2 separate regions of the Homo sapiens genome follow, and region 2 is linked to region 1. Evidence: fine-mapped expression QTL. Tissue or cell type: whole blood. Region 1 holds a variant in brackets; the other region holds the start of a gene. All regions are shown on one strand. Distances are from middle to middle.

The links. PIP is the estimated chance that this variant, and not a neighbour inherited with it, causes the effect.
Region 2: EPHX1 starts here. The variant in region 1 is fine-mapped to the expression of EPHX1 in whole blood (TOPMed, PIP above 0.99).

The regions. Positions count from the first base shown.
Region 1 is chr1:225,888,568-225,896,724 of GRCh38, forward strand. It overlaps LEFTY1 (left-right determination factor 1), which reads right to left and starts at 579. Exons shown (of 4, transcript NM_020997.4): 1 at 250-579. The coding sequence starts at 499. RefSeq lists enhancers at 1,448-2,165, 2,166-2,883, 2,884-3,599, 7,700-8,157 and a silencer at 2,622-2,916. The variant C/G (reference allele first, on the strand shown) is at 4,115.
Region 2 is chr1:225,807,841-225,814,640 of GRCh38, forward strand. EPHX1 (epoxide hydrolase 1) reads left to right here and starts at 2,284. Exons shown (of 9, transcript NM_001136018.4): 1 at 2,284-2,329. RefSeq lists a silencer at 2,242-2,461.

The DNA.
Region 1 (8,157 bases):
GCTCCAAGTAGAACTCAGACCAGAGTGGCAGTACGAAAACAGACCCCCGGAGTCCTGACTGCATGCACCGCTGCATGCTGAGGCCCCGCCATCCTCACAGGCCCGGCCCCACCTCACTGCCCCTTAGACCGTGGCCCTCACTCAGCCTCCCACAGACCTCTGCAAGGCCAGGAGCCCTTTGACACCACCGGAGTGGGCACATCTGACCTGCCCCATGGGACCAGGGGCAGCAGGGAGGGAGGGCCTCACCTCGGAAGCTCTGGCTGAACCTCTTTCCGCGGGAGCGGTCCCCGTGGCTGCGCTGCAGCAGGGCCACGTACTGGGCCCTCACGTGGGTGGGGATGACCAGCTCCTCCATGTCGGCCCTGTCCAGGGTGGGCACCTCTTTGAGCTGCAGCTGCCGCAGCAGGCTGCCCAGGAGCTGCTCCCCGGTCAGGGCGGCCCCGGGGCTGGCCAGGGGCAACACCCAGAGTGCCCAGCAGAGCCACAGGGGCTGCATGGTGCTGCCCTGGAGGAGCAAGAGGCAGAGTGGGGCTGTCCCTTGAGAAGGCTGCAGGAGGGTCTCAGGCAGCTGGATGTGCTGAGAGCCAAGCCTGGGCAGCTTTATAGCCTGGGGTGGAGGGAGGAGGTAGGGAGTGGGGAGGGAAGGAGGGAGGGAGGTCACACCCCTGAGACCTCCTGGAAGCTCACAGCCAGACGAGTCCCTGAGCTGGGAGGAGGGGGCTGTCTAGATAGGGCAAGTCTGTCTGGGCTGTGAACAGCTGGCTACAGCTGTCTATACAATGGTCATGAACCCCTAATGTGGGTTGAGGCCTGACCAGTTAAATTAAAAAGCTCATTTCCTAGAGTAGAGGTGGGGCTCTCGTTCTCTGCAAGAGGCTCAGTTCCCCCAGCTGCTGGTAAGTGGACCTAGAGTCTTGTTCCTTGCTGCAACCAAACAACTGACAGGAACCAGAATGGCTCAGGCAACGCCAGGGCTCTAAGGGCCAATCCAGTCTGCAGGGATGAGCATCCGGGCCCGTGCTCAGAGGGTCCCGGGGCCTCATGAGATCCTGAGCTGGTGGTCCCCAGTTGTGAAACCAGATTTCCCACTGTTCTGGGGGGACCTTCCTAGGCAAGGGAGCCTAGGAGCATTTAGTTCCAACGGGGTTTTGTCCAATAAGGAAGGAGCCTCATCCTCTCCCTCATCCCTGCTGTTCACAGAATTAGAGTTTAGAGTTGAAAGGAATATCCAGGCTACCTTCTCCCCCAATTTTTTTTTCTTTTGAGACAGAGTTTCATTCTTGTTGCCCAGGCTGGAGTACAATGGCGCAGTCTCGGCTCACGGCAACCTCTCCCAATTTTTGAGCTGAAAAAAAACCGAGGCTCAGAGGTGTCAACTTCCCGAAGCTCACAAAGTTAATGATCAATGTCCATATAAAGTCAGGTCTTGCAATTCACAAAGTTCTTGGCACACTCAAATTATTTACAGCCTAGTTTTGATCTATGCCCTAAAGGGAGCCAGGTGGTCTCAATCCAGGTGATCAGGTCTAGGCTGGGGCAGGGGGACAATCCCCCAAGACAGAGGACCCCTATCCTGAATGTGGATTTGTAAGCTGGTTGAAGAGTTTTGCTGGGGAAATAAAACATTTGGGTGATCAGCCAGGGGTAGGGCTACCAGATAAAATACAAGGCACTATTTGGGACATAATTATACCAAAAAAATTATTCATTGTCTACCTGACATTCAAATTTCACCAGAGTCCTATATTTTTATTTGCTAGATCTGACAACGAAAAATAAAACAAATGTGGATTGGGAGACTGTTTACAATGGTCTGAAGTGTTGCCAGGAGGGAGGGCAGCCCCACCCTTTGTCATGCAGAAGACGGAGCCTGGCTTCCCCAACCATCCCCACCTGGGTCTGCCCAGATTGGGCTTGAGATGGTAAAGTGGCCCCAGAACCAGATCTTCTATCTAAGGGAGGAGAGCGGGGCAAGGGAATGAGTGATCCCTACCCTGACTCAGAGCACATTTGGACCTGGCCCTCGGCCCAGAGCTAAGGGCACTGGAGGGCAGTGGTCTGGCCATACTGGGGAGAGGGGGAGGGGGCCCAGGTAGGAGGGTGGATGAGGAGTGGGGCCCTTTGCCCTCGAACACCCTCCTGCCCCTGGTGGGCCAGGATGTGACCCCAACCAGAGGCCAGGTTGCCAAGTGAGAGCCATGGGAAAACATGGGGGTCAGAGGTCATCCTGGGGCCTCCATGGATGGGGATGAGCTGGACTCAGGCCTGGGCTCTGACGTCAGCAAAGCTAAGAGTCCAGGAGTGGAGTGGCTTCTAAGTCAGAGCCCAGCATCTAGGGTCTCCAGGGTGGCTTTTGCCCCCTTCCTGGGCAGGGGCAGATACTTCTGAGAGTGCTCAGGAAATGCCCCAAGGCCAGTCCAGGTGTCCTGGGCTGCCCCAACCCACACCATCAACCTCCCTGACCCCAGGCCTGGGGGCCCATGTGGCTCCTTGGTGGTTCCAGGCACCCCCTGTGTGGGCACTTCCTGTTCTCCCAAAGTAGCTCAGACTCTGGCATCATCAGGGGTCCTTCCCTGGGGCTCTGTCTGGGCTGAGGAGGGTGGGAAACAAACCAGGAATAGGGACCCGTTTCAGTTCATCCAGCACCTTTGTGTGGTGGGCACATCTTGCCAGACAGCAACAACTCAAGCATGGCCTGGGAAGGACCCTTTGTCCCTTGGTGATGTTTGTTCAGTGTTCCAGGCTATGGACCGTGGGAACGGCCAACCTGGATGTTTAATTATGTTTAACTATGAAGAATGTCAGGCCCCTGGCCTGTTACTTGGAACACAGGCTGTACAAGGAACAGAGGTCCATTGTTTTGAGGTAGGTGGAGGCTGCTAAGTAGAGGTTGCTAGATGGAAGTTGCAATGTGGTTTTGGGCTGGGCGTGGTGGCTCACGCCTATAATCCCAGCACTCTGGGAGGCCAAGGTGGGCGGATCACTTGAGGTCAGGAATTGGAGCCTAGCCTGGCCAACATGGCAAAACCTCGACTCTACTAAAAATACAAAAATTACCTGGGCTTGGTGGCAGACGCCTGTAGTCCCAGCTAGTCAGGAGGCTGAGACAGGAGATGCGCTTGAACCTGTGAGGCAGAGGTTGCAGTGAGCCGAGATTGCACCACTGCGCTCCAGCCTGGGCGACAGAGTGAGACCCTGTCTCAAAAAAAGCCAACCAAACAAACAAATGTTGCAATGTGAAGGTTTCTACATGACCTGCACACTTTTCACAAATGGCAGCGGTTGCTCCTGTCCAGCCTGCCGCTCCTGGACTTCCCCCTGTGCGTAAGTCCCTTGAATAAAGCTCATGTCTTGCCTGCTGTCTCTGGGTCTTTTCTTTGGTCTCTCCAAGGTGGTGCCCTCCCAGCTTGCCTGCTTGGGGGTCCAACATGACACCCTTCTTGGCAAGAGTGAGTTCAAACCTTGCTATGCCACTCACATTTACTAGCTGTGTGGCCTCTGGCAGGTTTTCTTTTACTTTTTCAAATTAATTTTTTAATATTATTCTTATTTATTTATTTATTTATTTTTTGAGATGGAGTTTCGCTCTTGTTGCCCAGCCTGGAGTGCAATGGTGTGATCTTGGCTTACTGCAACCTCCGCCTCCTGGGTTCAAGAGATTCTCCTGCCTCAGCCTCCCGAGTAGCTGGGATTACAGGCACCCGCCACCATGCCTGGCTAATTTTTTTGTATTTTTAGTAGAGACGGGGGTTTCACCATGTTGGCCAGTCTGGTCCCAAACTCCTGACCTCAGGTGATCTGCCCACCTCGGCCTCCCAAACTTCTGGGATTGCAAGCATGAGCCACCGCGCCCTGTCATATTTTTAAATTTTTTTTTCTGAGACGGGGGTCTCACTATGTTGGCCAAGTTGGTCTTGAACTCTTGGCTTCAAGCCATTCTCCTGCCTTGGCTTCCCAAAGTGCTAGGATTACAGGTGTGAGCTACCACACCCAGCCACTGGCAGGTTTTCCACATTCTTCAATACAATACGTTTCCACCTATAAAATGGGAATAATGTATTTTTCTTGCAGTGTTTGTATTAATTGAGATGTCTACAGGGTGCCTAGCACA[C/G]CCTCTTGGTACACACTAGGTGACCAATAAATAGTAGGAGTCTCTTATACTGTTAGTAATTTTTTAAATGTTTAAATTTTTTAAATTGTGTGTTAACATTGTTTCTTTTTTTTCTTTTTTCTTTTCTTTTTTTCTTTTTATTTTGTTTCCTTTTTCTTTTTTGTCCTCTGGTGTTGAAACTGAATTTTTTTGGTTTTGTTTTGTTTTGTTTTTTGTTTTTTTTCTTGAGATGGAGTCTCGCTCTGTCGCCCAGGCTGGAGTGCAGTGGCACAATCTCGGCTCACTGCAAGCTTCGCCTTCCGGGTTCACGCCATTCTCCTGCCTCAGCCTCCCGAGTAGCTGGGACTACAGGCACCCGCCACCGCGCCCGGCTAATTTTTTTGTATTTTTAGTAGAGACGGGGTTTCACCATGTTAGCCAGGATGGTCTGGATCTCCTGACCTCGTGATCCGCACGTCTCCCCCTCCCAAAGTGCTGGGATTACAGGCTTGAGCCACCGCGCCCGGCCTTGTTTTTGTTTTTGTTTGTAATTAATACAAATAGCACAACTTTCAAAAGATAGGAAAGGGAATATGGAAGAATGTCAGTCTCTTTTTGTTCCTCATCTGCACATTTTTATTTTATTTTTATTTATTTATTTTTTGAGACAAGGTCTCACTCTGTTGCTCAGCCTGGAGTGCAGTGGTGCCATCTCAGCTCATTGCAGCCTCAACCTCTTGGGCTCAAAGGATCCTCCCGCCTCAGTCTCCCGAGTAACTGGAACCACAGATGTGCACCACCACACCCAGCTGAATTATTATTATTATTATTTTGAGATAGAGTCTCACTGTGTTGCCTAGGCTGGAGTGCAGTGGCAGGATCTCGGCTCACTGCAACCTCCACCTCCCAGGTTCAAGAGATTTTCCTCCTCCAGGGTTCAAGAGGTTCTGCTGTCTTAGCCTCCCAAGTAGCTGGGATTACAGGTGCCCACCACCACGCCCGGCTAATTTTTGTATTTTTAGTAGAAATGGGGTTTCACCAGGTTGGCCAGGCTGGCCTCGAACTCCTGACCTCAGATGATCTGCCCATCTCCGCCCCTTCAAAGTGCTGGGATTACAGGCATGAGCCACCGTGCCCAGCCAAAATTTTTTATGCTTTGTAAAGAGGAAGTCTTGCCGTGTTGCCCAGACTGGTCTCGAACTCCTGGGTGCAAGTAATTCTCCTGTCTCAACCTCTGGAGAAGCCGGGAACATAGGTGTGTGCCATCATGCTCAGCTTATATTTCTGTTTTTGAGAACTGTTTGTTCATACCTTGTGTCAATTTTCTACTGAGTTGTTTTTTCTTATTGATATGTAGACACTTTATATATCAGGGACATTAGCCTTTTCTCTGTTATATGCATTGCAAATATTTCTCCCATGTATAATTTGTGTTTTATACTTTGTTTATGCTGTTTTTTTTTTTTGTCATACTCTAATGTTTTTATTGAATTATGTTAAATTCACAGATTAGGAAGCACTGGCATTTTCTCATCTAAGAACACAGTTTGCCTTTCCTCATGGTTTGTCTTATGTCTTACATATAACTTGTTAAAACATCTTATAAATAACTTGTTAAATCAACTCCTGGGTAGTTTGCTTTTCATTTGTATTGAAGATGGGATTTTTTTATACCATCACACTGCTTAAGTGTTATTTGTGTCATTAAAGACTTGATTTCTTTTTCTTTTTCTTTTTTTGAGACAGAGTCGCTCTGTCGCCCAGGCTGGAGTGTAGTGGCACGATCTCTGCTCACTGCCACCTCCACCTCCCAGGTTCAAGTGATTCTCCTGCCTCAGCCTCTGAGTAGCTGGGATTACTGGCACACACCACCACACCTGGCTATTTTTTATTTTTAGTAGAGACAGGTTTTCATGGTCTTGAACTCCTGACCTCAAGTGATCCACCCGCCTAGGCCTCCCAAAGTGCTGGGATTACAGGCATGAGCCACTGTGCCCAGCCTGAAGATTTCAGGCTGTGGTACCAATTGGTACATAGAAGTCCTCTTCAAACTTCTTACAAACAATAAGACATTCCAGTAAAGTGAGTTCAAAATTGGTGCATAGAAGACTTTACTGGAACTTCTTATTGTACCTAACAGTTCTTAGTTGATTTCTTGCATTTTCTAGGTACAAAATCTTAATATTTGCTACTAATAATTTAATTCCTCTTTTTCAAAGTTTATTCCTCTGGAATTTTTTTTTCTATTGTCTAACTCCATTTAGTAGTTTTTCTAGAACAATATTCAATAAAAGTGATGATAATGGATAGCATTGTTTTGTCCTGGTTTTAATAGGACTCCTTTACTATTTCCCCATTGAGTATGAGCTTTACGGTTGAGCTAAATACATTTTATCATGTTAACGAAGTATCCATAATAGAATTTTTTAAAAATCAAGAACGGGCTGGGCGCGGTGGCTCCCACCTGTAATCCCAGCACTTTGGGAGGCCGAGGCGGGCGCATCACGAGGTCAAGAGCTCGAGACCAGCCTGACGAACGTAGTGAGACCCCGTGTCTACTAAAAATACAAAAATTAACTGGGTGTAGTGGCGCACGCCTGTGATCCCAGCTACTTGGGAGGCTGGGCAGGAGAATTGCTTGAACCCAGGAGGCGGAGGTTGCAGTGAGCCAAGATCGCACCACTGCATTCCAGCCTGGGCGACAGGGCAAGACTCCATCTCAAAAAAAAAAAAAAAAAAAAATCGAGAACGGGCCAAGCATGGTGGCTCATGCCTTAAATCCTAGCACTTTGAGAGTCCAAGGCAGAAGGATTGCTTGAGGCCAGGAGTTCAAGACCAGCCTGGGCAACATAGCAAGACCCCATCTCTACAAAAACATTTTTAAATTAGGTGTGGTGGTGTGCACTTAGCTACTCAGGAGGCTAAGACAGGAGGATCACTTGAACCCAGGAGTTTAAGGCTGCAGTGAGCTATGATTGTGCCACTGCACTCCAGTCTGGGTGACAGAGTGAGACCCTATTTCTAAATAATAATAATAATAATAATAATAATAATAATAATATAATGGATGTTGAGTAAAACCAATTTGATGAATATCTGGAGCAGTGAGAACTCTCAGATATCACTGGTGAGAGCGTAAAGTGCTACACCACACTAGAGAACTTGGCAGTATTTACTACAGTTCAAGATACCAGGTAAACTTAAGACCCAATGGCCAGGCACCACGGCTCATGCCTATAATCCCAACACTTTGGGATGCTGAGGTATGAGGATGGCTTCAGGCCAGGAGTTCAAGACCAGCCTGGGCAACATAGCAAGACCTCATCTCTACTATAAAAAAAATCAGCCAGGCATGGTGGCACACACCTGTAGTACTCCCAGCTACTCGGGAGGCTGAGGTGGCAGGATTGCTTGAGCCCAGGAGTTCGAGGCTGCAATGAGCCATGATTGCACCACTGCAATACAGCAGCCTGGGCAATAGAGCGAGACCCTGTCTCTTAAAAACAAAAAAGGGGCCGGGCACAGTGGCTCACGCCGCTAATCACAGCAATTTGGGAGGCCGAGGTGGGCCAATCACCTGAGGTCAGGAGTCCGTGACCAGCATGGCCAACATGGTGAAAGTCCATCTCTACTAAAATTACAAAAATTAGCTGGGTGTGGCGATGGGCACCTGTAATCCCAGCTACTCGGGAGGCTGAGGCAGAAGAATCACTTGAACCCCCGTGGCGGGGTGGGGCACAGAGGTTGCCGTGAGCCGAGATCACGCCACTGCACTTCCAGCCTGGGCAAGAGAGTGAGACTCCATTTCAAAAAAAAAAAAAAAAAGAAAGAAAAAAGGCACAGTCATTTCATTCAGTTGGACAGAAATGCATGCATAAGATTGATGATACAGCAGCATTGTTTATAAGAGTCCAAACTGAAGCAACTCACCAAAAATATCCATCGACACTGTAAAGCACAAATAAAATGTAGTATAGTCTTATGGAATACTTTATGGCAAAGAAAATGAACCGAAACTGTCTACAACATTGGCAAATGTCACAAGCAGAACATTGAACAGAAGC
Region 2 (6,800 bases), 81 kb before region 1:
GTTTGAGACCCACCTGGCCAACATGGTGAAACCCCATCTCTACTAAAAATACAAAAATTAGCTGGGTGTGGTGGCAAGTGCCTGTAATTCCAGCGGCTTGGGAGGCTGAGGCACGAGGATCACTTGAACCTGGGAGGCGGAGGTTGCAGTGAGCCGAGATTGTGCCATTGCGCTCCAACCTGGGCAACAGAGTGAGACTGTATCTCAAAAACAAACAAATAAATAAATAAAATAACAACTGTATTGAGACATAATTCACATACCCATAAAACTCACCCTTTAAGAGTGTAAAATTTCACGGGTTTTGGTATATTTACAGACTTGTAGTGATGTAACCATCACCAATATCTAATTTTAGAAGAGTTTTGATGCAGGGCAGCTGAGACCCCAGATTGGGTCTCAGCCCAGCAGGGTTTTTAGCTTTGTCCAGGAAAGAATTCAAGAGAGAGCCCGTGGTGTGAGACAGCAACTTTTATGGAGGTGGCGGTGTCCAGCAGCAGCAGAGGGGGCCTGCTCCTGCAGTGCAGGGCTGCCCCACAGGCAGTGTGCTGAGAGCAGCAGCTCTGGGCGATTCTGCAGTCATGTTGATACCCACTTTTAGTTACATGCAGATTAAGGGGCAGTTTATGCAGACATTTCTAGGAAAAGGGTAGTAACTTTTGGGTCCTCGGGTCATTGCCATGGAAGGGGGGTGATAACTCCAGGGGCGTGCCCTGGTAAACTGACATGGCACACTGATATGATGGGCATATCTTATGCTCATCTTCCACCCAGTCCCTGTTTTAGCTAGTCCTCAATTTGGTCCTCAATCTGGTGTCCAAGCCCCACCTCTGGCGTTAAGTCCTGACTCCTACCTGTTTCACCATCACTGCAGTTTTAAGAGTAACGAATTTGGGTCCCCTGGTGAAGTGGCCAGAGGCAGAGCTTCTGTGTGAACTATTTGGAGGGGAGGGGAAAGAACTCTCCCAGACTGCAGGTTCTGAAAGGAATACAGAGATGTCAGAGACTGCAGTTGCAAGAGAAAGCTTTTATAGGAGGGTGTAGAATTAAAGGACAAGAGGACTCTACATGTGGATGGAGGAGGGCACCCTGTCCGGCAGTACTGCAAGAGCAAAAGTTTGGAGGTGGGAGTGAGGTGAGTGCGTCTGCCGGCCAGAATTCTTGGGCCAGGGTGAGCAGAAAGGTTGGAGGCCAAGGGAAGGTGGGTGGTGGTGAACCTTATCCTGAAGTGTGCAAGGTGACAGTCAGAAGCTTAGAACTCCAGCCACGGGCCCTGCATGTGGCCTCCTAGCTGTAGTCTGTCCACCGAGATCGTGAGGATGCTGGTGGTTGAAAGAACTGCACCTCTGAGCAGGTGAAGAGAGAAGCTAAGGAGGGGTGATGGCAGAGGCGATGGGACAGGCTTTCTAACGATGAGGGGCTGGGGATCAACGCTCTCACGGAAGCTAAAAGAGCCCCAGCAACCACCCGCCTGGGCCCTGAGCTCTCTCCAAAGCGGGAGGGGATTCACTAAGAGGTTGCTCCCCTGGCATTGAACTCAGCATCCTATACTGGTCCTCACCATGAAGACCCCCAAGAGTGCTTCAGACCATTGCTTCTCACATTCTCTGTATAAAGACACTAATTTGTTTTTAGATTTCCAAGCATGTCACGGACCAATATGTTTGTTAAATATACTAAGAATGAATTGCTAGAAAGATGAAATTAAAAAGACATACACCGCCAGGTGCAGTGGCTCACGCCCATAATCTCACCACTTTGGGAGGCGGAGGTAGGTGCATCGCTTGAGCCCAGGAGTTCAAGATCAGCCTAGGCAACAAAGTGAGACCCCCGTATCTACAAAACTTAAAAAATTAGCCAGGTGTGGTGGCGCAGTCTGTAGTCCCAGCTATTCTGGAGGCCGAAGTGGGAGGATCGCTTGAGGCTGCAGTGAGCCGAGATCGCACCACTGCACTCCAGCCTGGGTGATAGAGTGAGACTCTGTCTCCAAAAAAAAAAAGGACATACATCATGCAAGTTTGGATTTTTGTTTTTAGATTCAACTGACGAAGTTACGGGATCAAACTGCTGTAGGAGCTGCCAAACGCTTCTCTCCATTTCTGGCCGCGGGGCCGCGGACCGCCCTTTAAGTAGCCCGTTTTATCCCTGGCAGAGGTGGAGCCTTAGGCAGGCCTAGAGACTTTCCCGGGTCCTCCAGGCCGGGGAACGCCCCGCTCGGAGGCCGGGCTTGGGCGGAGACTGCGCCGGGGCTGCTGAAAACTAGCCGAGGAGAGCCAGGGAGCCGGAGAGATCGCGCGCCTGCCGCCGCCGGAGCCTGCGAGCCGAGACCGTAAGCGCCCGGGGCCGGCCGGGCCCGCACTCCCCGGACGCAGACGCGGTTCGGGCTCCGCGCGGGCTCGGCCGCCGGGGTGGGCGGCGGGCCGGGGCGCCGAGGGGTCGGGGCTGCGGTCGGCCCGCAGGGGTGCAGAGGGACTTGTAGTTGGTCCGCCCCCAGCTCCTGCCCCGGCCAGGAGACTGCGCGTGCCGCCTACTGGGGGAAGGAGCCTGCAGGCGACCGCGGACTTCTCGCAGGGAATTCCGCGTCCCAGACTGTGGGCGGACGCCGCAGGGAGGGAGGCTCGCGACCCCGAGAGCGCACCGCGTCCCCTGGCCTGGGCGAGCTCTGCTTCCAGGGCCGTGGCTCGCTCGGCGGTGAAATGCACTTAATTTGTCACCCAAGTCGGAACACTGATTTTCATGCGCGTCCGTGTGAAGAGACCACCAAACAGGCTTTGTGTGAGCAACATGGCTGTTTATTTCACCTGGGTGCAGGCGGGCTGAGTCCGAAAAGAGTCAGCCAAGGGAGATAGGGGTGGGGCCGTTTTATAGGATTTGGGTAGGTAAAGGAAAATTACAGTCAAAGGGGGGTTCTCTGGCGGGCAGAGTGGGGGGGGTCACAAGGTGCTCAGTAGGGGAGCTTTTGAGCCAGGATGAGCCAGGAGAAGGAATTTCACAAGACAATGTCATCAGTTAAGGCAGGAACAGGTCATTTTCACTTTTGTGGTGGAATGACATCAGTTAAGGCAGGAACCGGCCATCTGGATGTGTAGGTGCAGGCCACAGGGGATATGATGGCTTAGCTTCGGCTCAGAGGCCTGACACTGATCACACCTTTTAGTTGAAATGCGCTTTCATCTCCATCTGCTGCCGCAGCCGCCGCCCGGCACCCCCTCGCTCTGGTCTCGGGATTGAAGGCCAGCCCTCTCCTCTTGTAGAACAGGAAACTTGCCCGGGAGTTCACCTTGTAGTTGAAGCCAGGGAATGTGGTCAACCTGAGCAAAAGCGCCGCGGAGACCGAGTGGCCGCCTGCCTCCCTCCCTGGCAGATGTCGGTTTTCTCTGAGCTTCTGGCTCCTTCCTTGCCCTGGCGGCTCCCGAGATCTTGGAGGTGGGGTGCCTAGCAATGTTGTAATCCTAATTTTGACTTTTTTTTCTTAAAGTTGAATGCCCCCTCCATAGCCCACCTCCCATTGTTTAAACTTCAGGTTCCGCAAAGCCTGGATCCGCCCCTACAGGCAACACTCGTTGTCCTGGAAGTTCTGTGAGGGCTCAGCTTGTGGCTGGAGGTGGGAGGTGAGGGGGACCCATGCACTTGGCAGGCCCGCTTCCAGGACAGCCCTTTGCTGGGATTGATGAGCTGTTGGTGGAAAATTGTTGAGGACCTTGGGGTTGGTGGCTGTTTCGGTACCACTGTGCAGCCTCCTCTGCATCCAGCATAATTTAAAATAAACATTTTCAGGAAGCCACACTTCTCCAGAAAGTAACATTGTTTTCTGGTGTAACGGTTGCCTCCTTCAGGGAGCTAGGTTTGGGGGATAATAGGGGGCCTTTCACTGGCCCCACTTGGTCTGACTTAGCAGCAAAAACTCTGCGAGTGCTCTCCAAGCAGTTTTTCTTTCCCAAATTTCCACACCTAGGAGGCGCTGAGGAGGCATGGGCGGTACTTAGGAACTGCTCACTGTGGAACTGAGGCACAGCGGGGAGCATGCCCTCGTGGGATTTGCAGTTCTAGGGGCAGAGGGATAATAAACAAAATACATTTGTAAACTATAAAGTATGTTAGAAGATGATGTGTAATATGGAGATAAATAAAACTTTAAAGAGGGGAGAGGAGTGCCAGGTGGAAAGGGAAGGCCTCACTGAAGGGTGGCACTGGCATAGACCTGAAGAGTTAGGGAGCAGCCAAGCTGCTGCCTGGGGTGCAGGTGCAAAGGCTGGGGGCAGGAGTGTGCCCAGCTTGAATGGCCTGATGTTTGTGTTTGCAGAGTGTGGGTCAAGCTGATGAGTGACCTACTGGATAAACTGAACTAGCTCAGTCTGTAAGTGAGGGGACTCCTGAGCTTTCTGCGGCCTTCTTCCCAATTCCAGGAAAGGAAGGACCTTCCACAGAAAATAACTACTCAGCAAGACAGCCAGGGTGAACCTCAGCACCATCTGTGACAAGCCACATGCTCTCTGCGTGATGCCTCCTGCCTCTCAGCTGTGCCTGAAGCACACTAGCTGGCATGGACTTACGCGGCTGGGAACATCTTCAGGAAGCCCTGAATGAGGGCTCTGTGGGCAGAGGGACCTTTGCAGAAAGGGCATCTTGACCACTGCAGGAGGTGGAGTGACTCTCCTGGGGTGTCCTGGTTCCTGCCTGATGTCTTAAGCATAACTGGCATTTTCAGGGAGCCCAGGTTCACCAATGCACAGTGCCCCTCCTGTCGACCTGATACCCAGGCTTGGTGATTGCTCACCTGGCACCTTGATTCCCGTTCTGGTATCTTGGCCCAGGCCCAGACATGTGAAAGCAGGGGCTACCGAGATTCATTTCTCAGTTCTTACGCCAAGAGGTTCAACCACATGGATCACAGCTGGGTGTACCAAATAAGGGAGGACCAAGCATGAGCTGGTCACCCCTGCTGAAGAAGTAGCTCGAAGCCCACCCACTCGGGGACAGAGTGGGCACAGATGGGATAGACAGATAGTGATTCGAGGGGTGCCTAGGATCTCATACTGAAAACCCACCTCTGCTAGGGCCATAAATCCCATCAACAGCAATTCATTCCTTTGAGAGGTAATACAGTGATGTGGGAAGAGGATTGGGCTGGAAAAAAGACTTGGCTCATGTCCCAGCTCTGCCATTAATGTGTCCCCTCTCTGGACCTCATCTGTAAAATGAGGTTAGGCTCAGCGATCTGCAGGCCTTCTTGCAGCTCTGCTATGTGATGATTCTGTGGCAAAGTCTGAAGGGATTTCAGGAAAGGAATGTGTAGGAGGGAAACAGTAAGTTTTGAAGGGACTCAGTGGGCCCTGTAGCCTCTGCTGGGTCCAGTGAAGACACTTCAACTAGAGTGAAGGCCCTGGCCACAGGGTAGGGGAGGCAAAATCTTAAGAGTTCAAGAGCCCTGAGTCAAGGCAGGAGGGTCACTGCCCAGCCCAGCTGGCCCCCTGGGCTGCCTGTGTGTGGTTCTTGACCCAGACCTAGTGGCTTAGGAGCAGAGTCTCCAAGGGGCTGTGGGATAAGGTGGGGATTGCAGGAGGGAGAAGGCACCCCAGCAGTTCCCCCGTTAGGGGACCAAAGCGTTGCCAAGGATCCAGCCACACCCCTCTCCTGAGGAGGGAGGAGCTGGTGGGCGCTCCAGGAAGAGCTTCCTCTCAACAAGGAGAAAACTGCGCAATCCAATCCTCCGTTATATAACTGAGCACACGATTGTGCAAACCAAGCTCACACTGAGCAGCCTCCCCTATTGTCAAGGTTTATTTACTTTCCCAGGGGAAGTCATAGTTCATCCTTTCTCAGCAGAAAGCAGCCATTTGACTGCCACAGCCTGACCTACGGCATTCCAGGAGATGGGTTCAGAGACCTGGTGTGGAGTCCTCATGCCCACCCGCCCTGCTGTCTGTGTCTTTCCGTCTGTTGCCTGGTGGGTGGGTGTGGTTTAGTGCATGGTCCAGCCCCCGCACAGCCACACCCATTAGGCTCTCCAAGGCCTAACTGAGCAAGCTTGCAGAAGAGGGGAAAGTGTTCTTTTCTCTGAGGAGTTAAAGAGACTTCTGGAAAATTCTCCAGCTACTCCACAAACTAGGATCACAGGCCTTGTTCTTAGGTCGGGAGCAGGAGTTTTTGCTGCCTTTAGCATTTGGGAAGTTTGATGAATAGAGACTGAATTTGAATGTCTTTTTGGTACTTAAGAGCTGGATTAACTACTTCACATATCTGAGCTTCATTTTTAATTCTTTTTAAAACAGAAAAAGTGGCTGGGCAAGATGGCGCACACCTGTAATCCCAGCATTTTGGGAAGCTGAGGTGGGTGGATCACTTGAGCCCAGGAGTTCTGAGACCAGCCTGGGCAACAAAGTGAGACCTCGTCTCTATAAAGAATAAATTAGCTGGGAGTGGTGGAGCACACCTGTAATCCCAGCACTTTAGGAAGCTGAGGCAGGAGGATCTCTTGAGCCCAAGAGTTCAAGACCACCCTGGGCAACATAGCGAGACCCTGTCTCAAATAATTTTTAAAAAGAAAAACTACCTCTTCTTAAGATGGTTGTAGTATGGGAGATGGTGTGTTTAAGTCTTCCCACCCCAGTGTCACAGCTCAGGGCTTCTCTAGCCTTCCTCACAGCGGTTGGGGGTGCCCAGACACATCCTGAAGTCTAGGCCGTGTTCTGAGTGTCTCTGCCACGGGCCCGCCTGGCTGGCTTTAGTCCAGGAGCAGCCTGGACTGTGACTCTTGAAGGCTGTGGGAGGCTGGTGACCGGGAGCAGGAGGTCTCAGTG